Regions from separate parts of the Homo sapiens genome. Here all the other regions are linked to region 1. Evidence: fine-mapped expression QTL. A gene starts in region 1. Each other region holds a variant in brackets. All regions are shown on one strand. Distances are between the middles of the regions.

The links. PIP is the estimated chance that this variant, and not a neighbour inherited with it, causes the effect.
Region 2: its variant is the best candidate, but not a certain one, in a credible set for the expression of B3GAT1-DT in minor salivary gland (GTEx, PIP 0.51).
Region 3: its variant is the best candidate, but not a certain one, in a credible set for the expression of B3GAT1-DT in caudate (GTEx, PIP 0.83).

Annotation. Positions count from the first base shown.
Region 1 is chr11:134,435,280-134,438,041 of GRCh38, reverse strand. It overlaps B3GAT1-DT (B3GAT1 divergent transcript), which reads right to left and starts at 1,560. Exons shown (of 6, transcript NR_033852.1): 1 at 1,258-1,560.
Region 2 is chr11:134,495,774-134,498,535 of GRCh38, reverse strand. The region is part of intron 5 of B3GAT1-DT (B3GAT1 divergent transcript); the gene reads right to left. Among named protein-coding and RNA genes, the nearest start is that of B3GAT1-DT, 61 kb to the right of the region's middle. The variant C/T (reference allele first, on the strand shown) is at 1,100.
Region 3 is chr11:134,468,614-134,471,375 of GRCh38, reverse strand. All of the region lies in intron 3 of B3GAT1-DT (B3GAT1 divergent transcript), which reads right to left. Among named protein-coding and RNA genes, the nearest start is that of B3GAT1-DT, 34 kb to the right of the region's middle. The variant G/C (reference allele first, on the strand shown) is at 1,619.

The DNA.
Region 1 (2,762 bases):
GTCCAATCTCTGCCTTGGTACAACTGTTCCCATGCTGTTTGGCCCACAGCTGCTGCTGAAGCCCGACCAGCCTGCCCATGCCAGCCCCTGCCAAGGACTCCCAGGCCCCCTTGCACCCAGCGACTGGAAAGGTAATGCCTAACGGCCCAACATCTTTAGAGCTGTAATCTGTCACCTCGCAGAGGAGTGCTGATGGTGCCCAGACAGACTGCTCAGTTATGCCTCTGGAGTGGGAGGTGCAGGAGGTCACCATGGGCTTTGTGCGGAACCAGGAGAAGCAGCCCTGGCTGTGAGATCAGGCCTGGCGAGGACAGCTCCTGCAGTGCCAGCTCTGCACCACCTCCAAGTGCTGCTGCCTCTGGCATGGGAGGTGTTATCATGGACACCATAAATGTGGGACCTTCAGGACTGGTGACAATTTTGATGGGCTGCACTAAAAAATCTGTAAAGGTGGTTAAGATTTAGCATGACTGACTGCCTAAATGCTTCCTTTCATGTGTCTATAAAAGTGATATTATCAAAGCGGAGCTCTGGGACGATTAATCTGGTTGCAGTTCTCAAGGAGTCCAGGCAATATTACTGCCAGGCCTGGAGGTGTGACCGGGGGGTGTGGGTCAGTGTGGCCATGGCCCTGGCAGGGGCAGCGGGGAAGGAGGGTGAGCTAAAGACGCTGGGTTTCATTTTGAATATGTTGAGTTGGAGGAAGAGGTCAGCCTGGAACTTAGGAGCGATGGAAGAGCCAGCATTCTTGCCTTAGCTTGGGGGTGAGGTTCCCCTTGCTCACTGCAGTTTCTCAAGGCCCGAGGCTTTGCGCTGTGGAAAGAAGTCTGAAATTTCAGGGACAGGGACAAGTGTTGCATGGGAACCTCCATGGGAAAGACAAGGTGGTAAGGAGAGGTCTTTGGGGCTGCCGCCTCCCGACCCCCACTGAAGACAGAAAGGAAAAGGGGCCAGAGGGAGATTTGTCTGGGGAGTAACGGGCAAACTGAGAATGCCATCCGCTGCAAGCTACAGCCACCCTGGGCTCTTCACACGTAGACAGAGCCGCCCCCTCCCATCAAGCGTTGCGGGCCAGCACTGCAGGACCCTGGCCTACAAAGGCAATGGGCCTGTGGCTGGCGTCACCCTCCCTCTGGGCAGCCGTGCAGGCACCCACAGGCCCTTGTGACTTTGGTCTTTTGAGAACTATGACAGTTCTGCCTGTAAGGTATGTTTTTTCTCTGTTTCTTTCTCAGCCACCATCACCAAGCTACTTACCACTTAGAAAGGGGAGTAAAAGTCAGGCCTGGAAGCAAACCCCGAGGAAGGCTGGGCTCAGCCTGTTGTGGGCATGGGAGGGCCTCTCTGCCTGAAAGCCGTGAGAGGTGAAGTCCAAGGATGGTCACTGAGGCCTCAAAGGTCTCCTCACTGTGCCACTGAGTCAGATCTTGAGTTCATCCAGGCTTGTGGGGACCCAGAGGACAGAAGATCATGGCTGTTGCCACCCATCTAGAAAATTGAGCCTCTTTCCACGTGTCCTTGGCCTGTGAGTACAAGCTGTCTGATCTGTTGATTGGAGGCTTGAGACAGAACACAGACACAATCCCATCAGGAATTTTCCAGAAGCCTCTGAGATGCCCCCTCCACCCACAATGCCCGAAATAGACAGCTCCCTCAGCGAGCAGACCTCTGGGGTCACAGACCATTTATAAAGGAGCGTGGTGCTCACTAATGCGGCTTTGGAGCTACAGCAAAGCGTAGCAAAAGCCTTGGGAAAAGTTCAGAGTGAGATTAGATCGAGGCTTTCTTGTCTGGGCAAGGCGAGGAGGCTGCCGTCACCTGGCTGGCGGGGAGACCTTAACCCCATGAACTTCAGAGTCTGGCCCCTTGGCCCAGTGCACCCTGGGAAATCCCCTGACTGCTGCACTGGGGAGTGACTGTGGTGAGGGACGTGTCCTCCCCCAGGGCCTCTGCCCTCCATTTGCCTCACAACCCAGGGCCCAGCACAGTCGGGATCACCAAGGTTAGAGCTGTTTCCTCCTCTCAGAACCACAGAGGGGGCCCTGAAAGTGCAAGATTGGAATGCCACTCCAAATGCCACGTGGCTTCCCTGGGACCCACTAACTGGGCAGCAGGGACCTCAGTGCTCTGGGAGGAGTTGGTGGTCCTGACGCTATGCACCCCTTTGGGCAGAATGACCCCCAGGGGACAGAGGCAGCGAGGGGCATCACTCAGATTACCTGGTGGACCCTCACACACCACTCTCATTAAATAGGTAAGAGAATAAAAGCTCAGAAAGGTTCGGTGAGCTGTCAAGACATATGGGGCAAGCCCGTGTTCTAGCCCAGATCTGTGTGAGGTTGAAGCCTTTGAAGGAAGGGCATGGCCCATGAATAAAGGATGTAGCCAAAGGGATCCAGAAGAGGTAGGCTTCAGAATTCCACCCACTCATGGACAGCCAGGTCCCAGTGAGGGCCAAGAAAGACCAGCTCCCTACACCATGAGCCTGGCTGAGGAGCCAGCCTGGAACCCTGGGAAGGAAGGGATCTGTGCTCCATTTGGGCACGCAGAATCATGCCTGATCCCAGACAGACTTTATGTCATCAGCTTTTCAGCTTTACTCTCCAGGATGGTGGATTTGATAGAAGAAGGAATTGTCTGGGTTGTATGTCCAATATGCAATTGTATTGTATATGGGACATCCTAGTTCTCGCTCCTCTGCCCCATCCCAGCTGCTTCCCTATGAAATCAGCAGTGGTTCCCCCGACCCGCCCTCCCCTGCT
Region 2 (2,762 bases), 60 kb before region 1:
GATGCCCTGCTGCTTGGGAGGTGAGCCGAGAGGCAGCTTCAGTGCCAGAGCCAGGCACCCAGCCAGCCCACTCCGGCTTCAGCGAGAACATGGCTTCCTCAGGCTCTTCACTGCAGAGGGAGGGCTCTGCACACAACAAGGCTCTGGTTGGGACCGTGATACAGATCTGAGTGCTGAGGCTTCTGAGGCTGTCGCTCCTGCCCTAGGAGCTGGCACTGGGAGCCCCCATTCTGCCTAGGACTGTGAGCCCCTCCCCAGGTAACAGAGCTCCCTCCCAGGTAAATGCAGAGGATGGACCCCTGGGAAAATGAAGGGAAGGAGAAAGAGCACCACAGAGGAAAGCTGTCCACCACCCAAAGTACAGAGAACAAAAGCAAAGCACCATTCCAGTTAATACATGCCCCCACTACACACTGAGCACCAAGGAGCTAGGCCCGTGCCCAGGGCTGGAGCGAGGACACTCCTGCCTTCATGCCTGCACTCCAGGAGCTCACAGTTTCTTCCTCTGAAGCCCGTCCTCCACCCAGGCACCAAGGAACCCTTTTTTTGGTCTCTAAAATCATAGTTTGTTACCCTCCTTCAAGCCTCCCAGTGGCTTCCCAATAAGGTGCAAACTCATTTCCTGGTGGCCCAGCCTCCAAGGCCTGGCTCTTGCCCTCCTCTCTCACCTCTCTCTTGTCTCCTTTCTGCCCCTGAGCAGGTTCACTTCCTCCTGGGCCTCGGCCCATCCCTCTGGCACGTCCCTCTCCAGGAGCCCTGCCCTGGAGTCCTGTGTAAACAGCCAGGCACGCTCTGCCACTCAGCTATGGTTTCCTTCTTCATTCTTGTTTGTTTACTAAATCAGCTGCCAAAACAAAACAATGGGGGACTTCAATCACACGGCAGGGTGCCCCTCTGAGACGAAGCTTCCAGAAGAACAATCAGGCAGCAACATTTGCTGTTCTGAAATATTTGCTGTTCTGCAGACTCCACTGGTGATACCCAGGCAAACAGGGTCTGGAGTGGACCTCCAGCAAACTCCAACAGACCTGCAGCTGAGGGTCCTGACTGCTAGAAGGAAAACTAACAAACAGAAAGGACATCCATACCAAAACCCCAT[C/T]GGTATGTCACCATCATCAAAGACCAAAGGTTGATAAAACCACAAAGATGGGGAGAAACCAAAGCAGAAAAGCTGAAAATTCTAAAAATCAGAGCTCCTCTCCCCCTCCAAAGAAATGCAGCTCCTCACCAGCAACAGAACAAAGATAGACAGAGAATGACTTTGACGAGTTGAGAGAAGAAGGCTTCAGATGACCAAACTTCTCCAAGCTAAAGGAGGAAGTTTGAACCCATGGCAAAGAAGTTAAAAACCTTGAAAAAACATTAGACGAATGGCTAACTAGAATAACCAGAGTAGAGAAGACCTTAAATGACCTGATGGAGCTGAAAACCATGGCACGAGAACTACGTGATGAATGCACAAGCTTCAGTAGCCGATTCGATCAACCAGAAGGAAGGGTATCAGTGATTGAAGATCAAATGAATGAAATGAAGCGAGAAGAGAAGTTTAGAGAAAAAACAGAAAAAGAAATGAACAAAGCCTCCAAGAAATATAGGACTATGTGAAAAGACTAAATCTACGTCTGATTGGTGTACCTGAAAGTGACAGAGAGAAGGAAACCAAGTTGGAAAACACTCTGCAGGATATTATCCAGGAGAACTTCCCCAACCTACCAAGGCAGGCCAACATTCAAATTCAGGAAATACAGAGAACATCACAAAGATACTCCTCAAGAAGAGCAACTCCAAGACACACAATTGTCAGATACACCAAAGTTGAAATAAAGGAAAAAATGTTAAGGGCAGCCAGAGAGAAAGGTCGGGTGTACCCACAAAGGGAAGCCCATCAAACTAACAGCTGATCTCTCGGCAGAAACTCTACAAGCCAGAAGAGAGTGGGGGTCAATATTCAACATCCTTAAAGAAAGAATTTTCAACCCAGAATTTCATATCCAGCCAAACTAAGCTTCATAAGTGAAGGAGAAATAAAATCCTTTACAGACAAGCAAATGCTGAGAGATTTTGTCACCATCAGGCCTGCCTACAAGAGCTCCTGAAGGAAGCACTAAACATGGAAAGGAAAAATCAGTACCAGCCACTGCATAAACATGCCAAATTGTAAAGACCATTGATGCTAGGAAGAAACTGCATAAACTAACGAGCAAAATAACCATCTAACATCATAATGACAGGATCAAATTCACACATAACAATATTAACCTTAAATGTAAATGGGTTAAATGCTCCAATTAAAAGACACAGACTGGCAAATTGGATAAAGAGTCAAGACCCATCAGTGTGTTGTATTCAGGAGACCCATATCATGTGCGGAGACACACATAGGCTCAAAATAAAAGGGATGGAGGAAGATCTTCCAAGCAAATGGAAAACAAAAAAAAGGCAGGGGTTGCAATCCTAGTCTCTGATAAAGCAGACTTTAAACCAACAAAGATCAAAAGAGACAAAGAAGGCCATTACATAATGGTAAAAGGATCAATTCAACAAGAAGAGCTAACTATCCTAAATATATATGCACCCGATACAGGAGCACCCAGATTCATAAAGCAAGTTCTTAGAGACCTACAAAGAGACTTAGACTCCCACACAATAATAATGGGAGACTTTAACACCCCACTGTCAACATTAGACAGATCAATGAGACAGAAAGTTAACAAGGATATCCAGGAATTGAACTCAGCTCTGCACCAAGTGGACCTAATAGA
Region 3 (2,762 bases), 33 kb before region 1:
AAGAATTTGTCTGATGGTGCTAGAATGCTGCCTGAGCTCTGTGCAAGGTGTGGGGCAGCGCGGGGAGGGTGCAGCAGCCTAGCGGGGCGGCCGGCAGCCCTCAGCACAACGGCATTTGGTCGAGGCCCTGCTGTCCCTTGGGAAGTTAGATCATGTGCTTTCTGAAGTTATAGCATCCAAGAATGGTGGAAATCAAGCAGAACACTGATGTGGTTTGAGTTATTTTCGTCACTTTCCACAAAATCCTGCAAGGGAGAGATGGGCTTCCACTAGCGCTAGCTCCTACGCAAACAGAGGGGGAAGGAAATACTACATTTTCTAACCCAGGCCTTGTGTCCGTTAAATGAGCATTTTTACAAAGCTAAAAAACAGCCAAATATGGCCCAAAGCTAAACAATAGCCAAAGTGAAACAGTTCTAAATGAGGGCTGTGGAGCAGGAACCCCAGCAGAAGTTAAAACTGTGACCCAAGACTTTACCAAGCATCTTTTAAGAACTCGATGCAGACAACGCAAGTCAATGCACTAGCAAGGATCGGGTGAAAAGTGTTATCATAGTCACCATTAATTTAATAGCTAAGGGGACAGACTCAGTGACAGAGGCCAGTGAGTAAAACAGATGAATATTCAAGCCTAAAAACTGCATCTGGACACAAAGAAATGGGGCTGTGGTTATTTGCACATTACAATGATCAGAAGTAAATAGGCTATATGCCCATTGGAGTGTTGAAGGAACCGTTAATATATTTCTAAAGAAATCTCAGGCCCAGTCTGAGACTACAAAAGCCCGAAAATATGCTGGATTCCCTGGTCCAACATCCCACACTGCACGGTGTCAAAATCATGCATCCTCTGGGAAGGACCAGCTCCCTAGTGCCCACATCAGAGGTGGCAATGGAGGATGATTGACAGGGAGGACCCTTCTGAAGGCGGAGCCAAAAGCCATGAAGACACAGTTCAAGGCGATGCTCCTGGAGACAGTGGGTGGGGACCACATGGGCCAGCCAAGGAACCCAGTCCACTGCCGGACGGAGAGGCCTTTTCACTCCTGCCTAGCAGGGTGGGTCCATCACTGTAAACCAGTGATCTCTGTGTTTCTCTTTCCTCCCTTTTCTGAATGGAAGATTGACATTTTTAAATTGTGGTTATTTTATCTTTCCTCTCAAGGAGAAAAGGTAGGGTAGGTTGGGAAAAAAATGGCCTGTCTTTTAGTTCATAGGTCACCAGCCATGAGAAGCCACATCTGGGACTGATGGAGCAGACTGCCCACACACAAGCTAGATGCAGAAACTGGGTGTGATTTGGGAGTGGTGGCTTGGGAATCAGAATGCGCTCTATGTGGAAGAGCAATGTCTGTGGAAATCAGAGAAAACCACAGTGGCAGATGCAGCAGACATTGCTAGGGGCCTTTCCCATATTCATTCTTTGTTGGTAGCATATCCTTATTTTATTAAGGGTAGCAATGTGCCATTGAAAAACTACATTTCCCAGCTTCCCTTGCTGGTAGTTATGGCCATGTGACTAAATGCCGACCAATGAGATGCAGACAGAAGATTATGTGTGATCTTTGTAGAGAAACGCCTTTTTCCCGCCTTTTCTCTTTTCCCCAGTTTCTACCTA[G/C]AATATGAACATGATAGGTAGAGTTGCACTCACTGTCACTGTTTTAGTCCATGAGAAGACCTGAAAATGAAAATAATGTGACAAGAACTCAGAATATAAATACTACCATGTTTGCTCATTGCCAGATTTCTATTACAGGAAGGGTGAGAAACAAACCTTCTGTTTTGTTTAAGCTATTGATCTTCTATATCCTCTTCTTTAGCTGGAAGTAGAATATAATTCTTACCTGATTCAAGCTCATCACCTACGCTTTTGGTGTCAATTTTAGCATCTGCAAAATGGGGATAAAAAAAAAACTATATCCAAGACTTCTTTGTGAGAATTTAAATGACATAATATATTTTAAAAGTCCAGCTCCAAACTTGTCACATAATAATTGCTGGATAAATAGAAACTATTCCTGCATTTACTACTATTACTAGTAGCATTATTATTATTATATAATCACTAATGACTAGGTCAAGCCAAGATCGAAACATAAGTATTCTAACAGCCAAACCTTTGCTTTTGCAGTTTGTAATCTTACTAATTCTCAACACCTTACCCTGAGCTACAGATAGACTCAAAGCACCAGAATAAAGGACAGAAATATTTGAGGCCCAGATGAGGAAGGTTTGCTGCAAGCAGCAGGCAGAGGTTAGAGCAGGATCAACCTGCTTTTTCTGTAAAGAGCCTTATAGTAAACATTCTTGCTTTGCAGGCCATACGGGTTCTGTTGCAGGTGTTCAATGTTGCCATCACAGCATAAAAGCAGCCATGGGCAATGTGTAAATGAAAGAACATGGCTGTATTCCAACAAAACTTTATTTACCAAAAAGGCAACAGGCTGGCTTTGGCCAGCAGGGCCTGGTTTGCCAATCCCCTGCCTAGAGGGATGTCCTGTGAGAAAAGACGCAAAAGAGACATGGAGGAGGCCCTAGTTCTGCAGCAATCTGTCCCAAGGCCCGGAGAAGGTCACAGATGCCCCTGTGCCCCCTCCAGCTTGTCCCCCAGTGCTCAGCACCTCAACACCGTGCTCTTCCTGGGCTCAGAACAAGGCGTGTGCAGCTGCACACCCCCTGCATGAAGGTTTCCTCCTCACCCCCACTCCATCTCACTGGACTAACTCCTACTCATCCTGCAGTTCCCAGCCTAGACGCTTAAC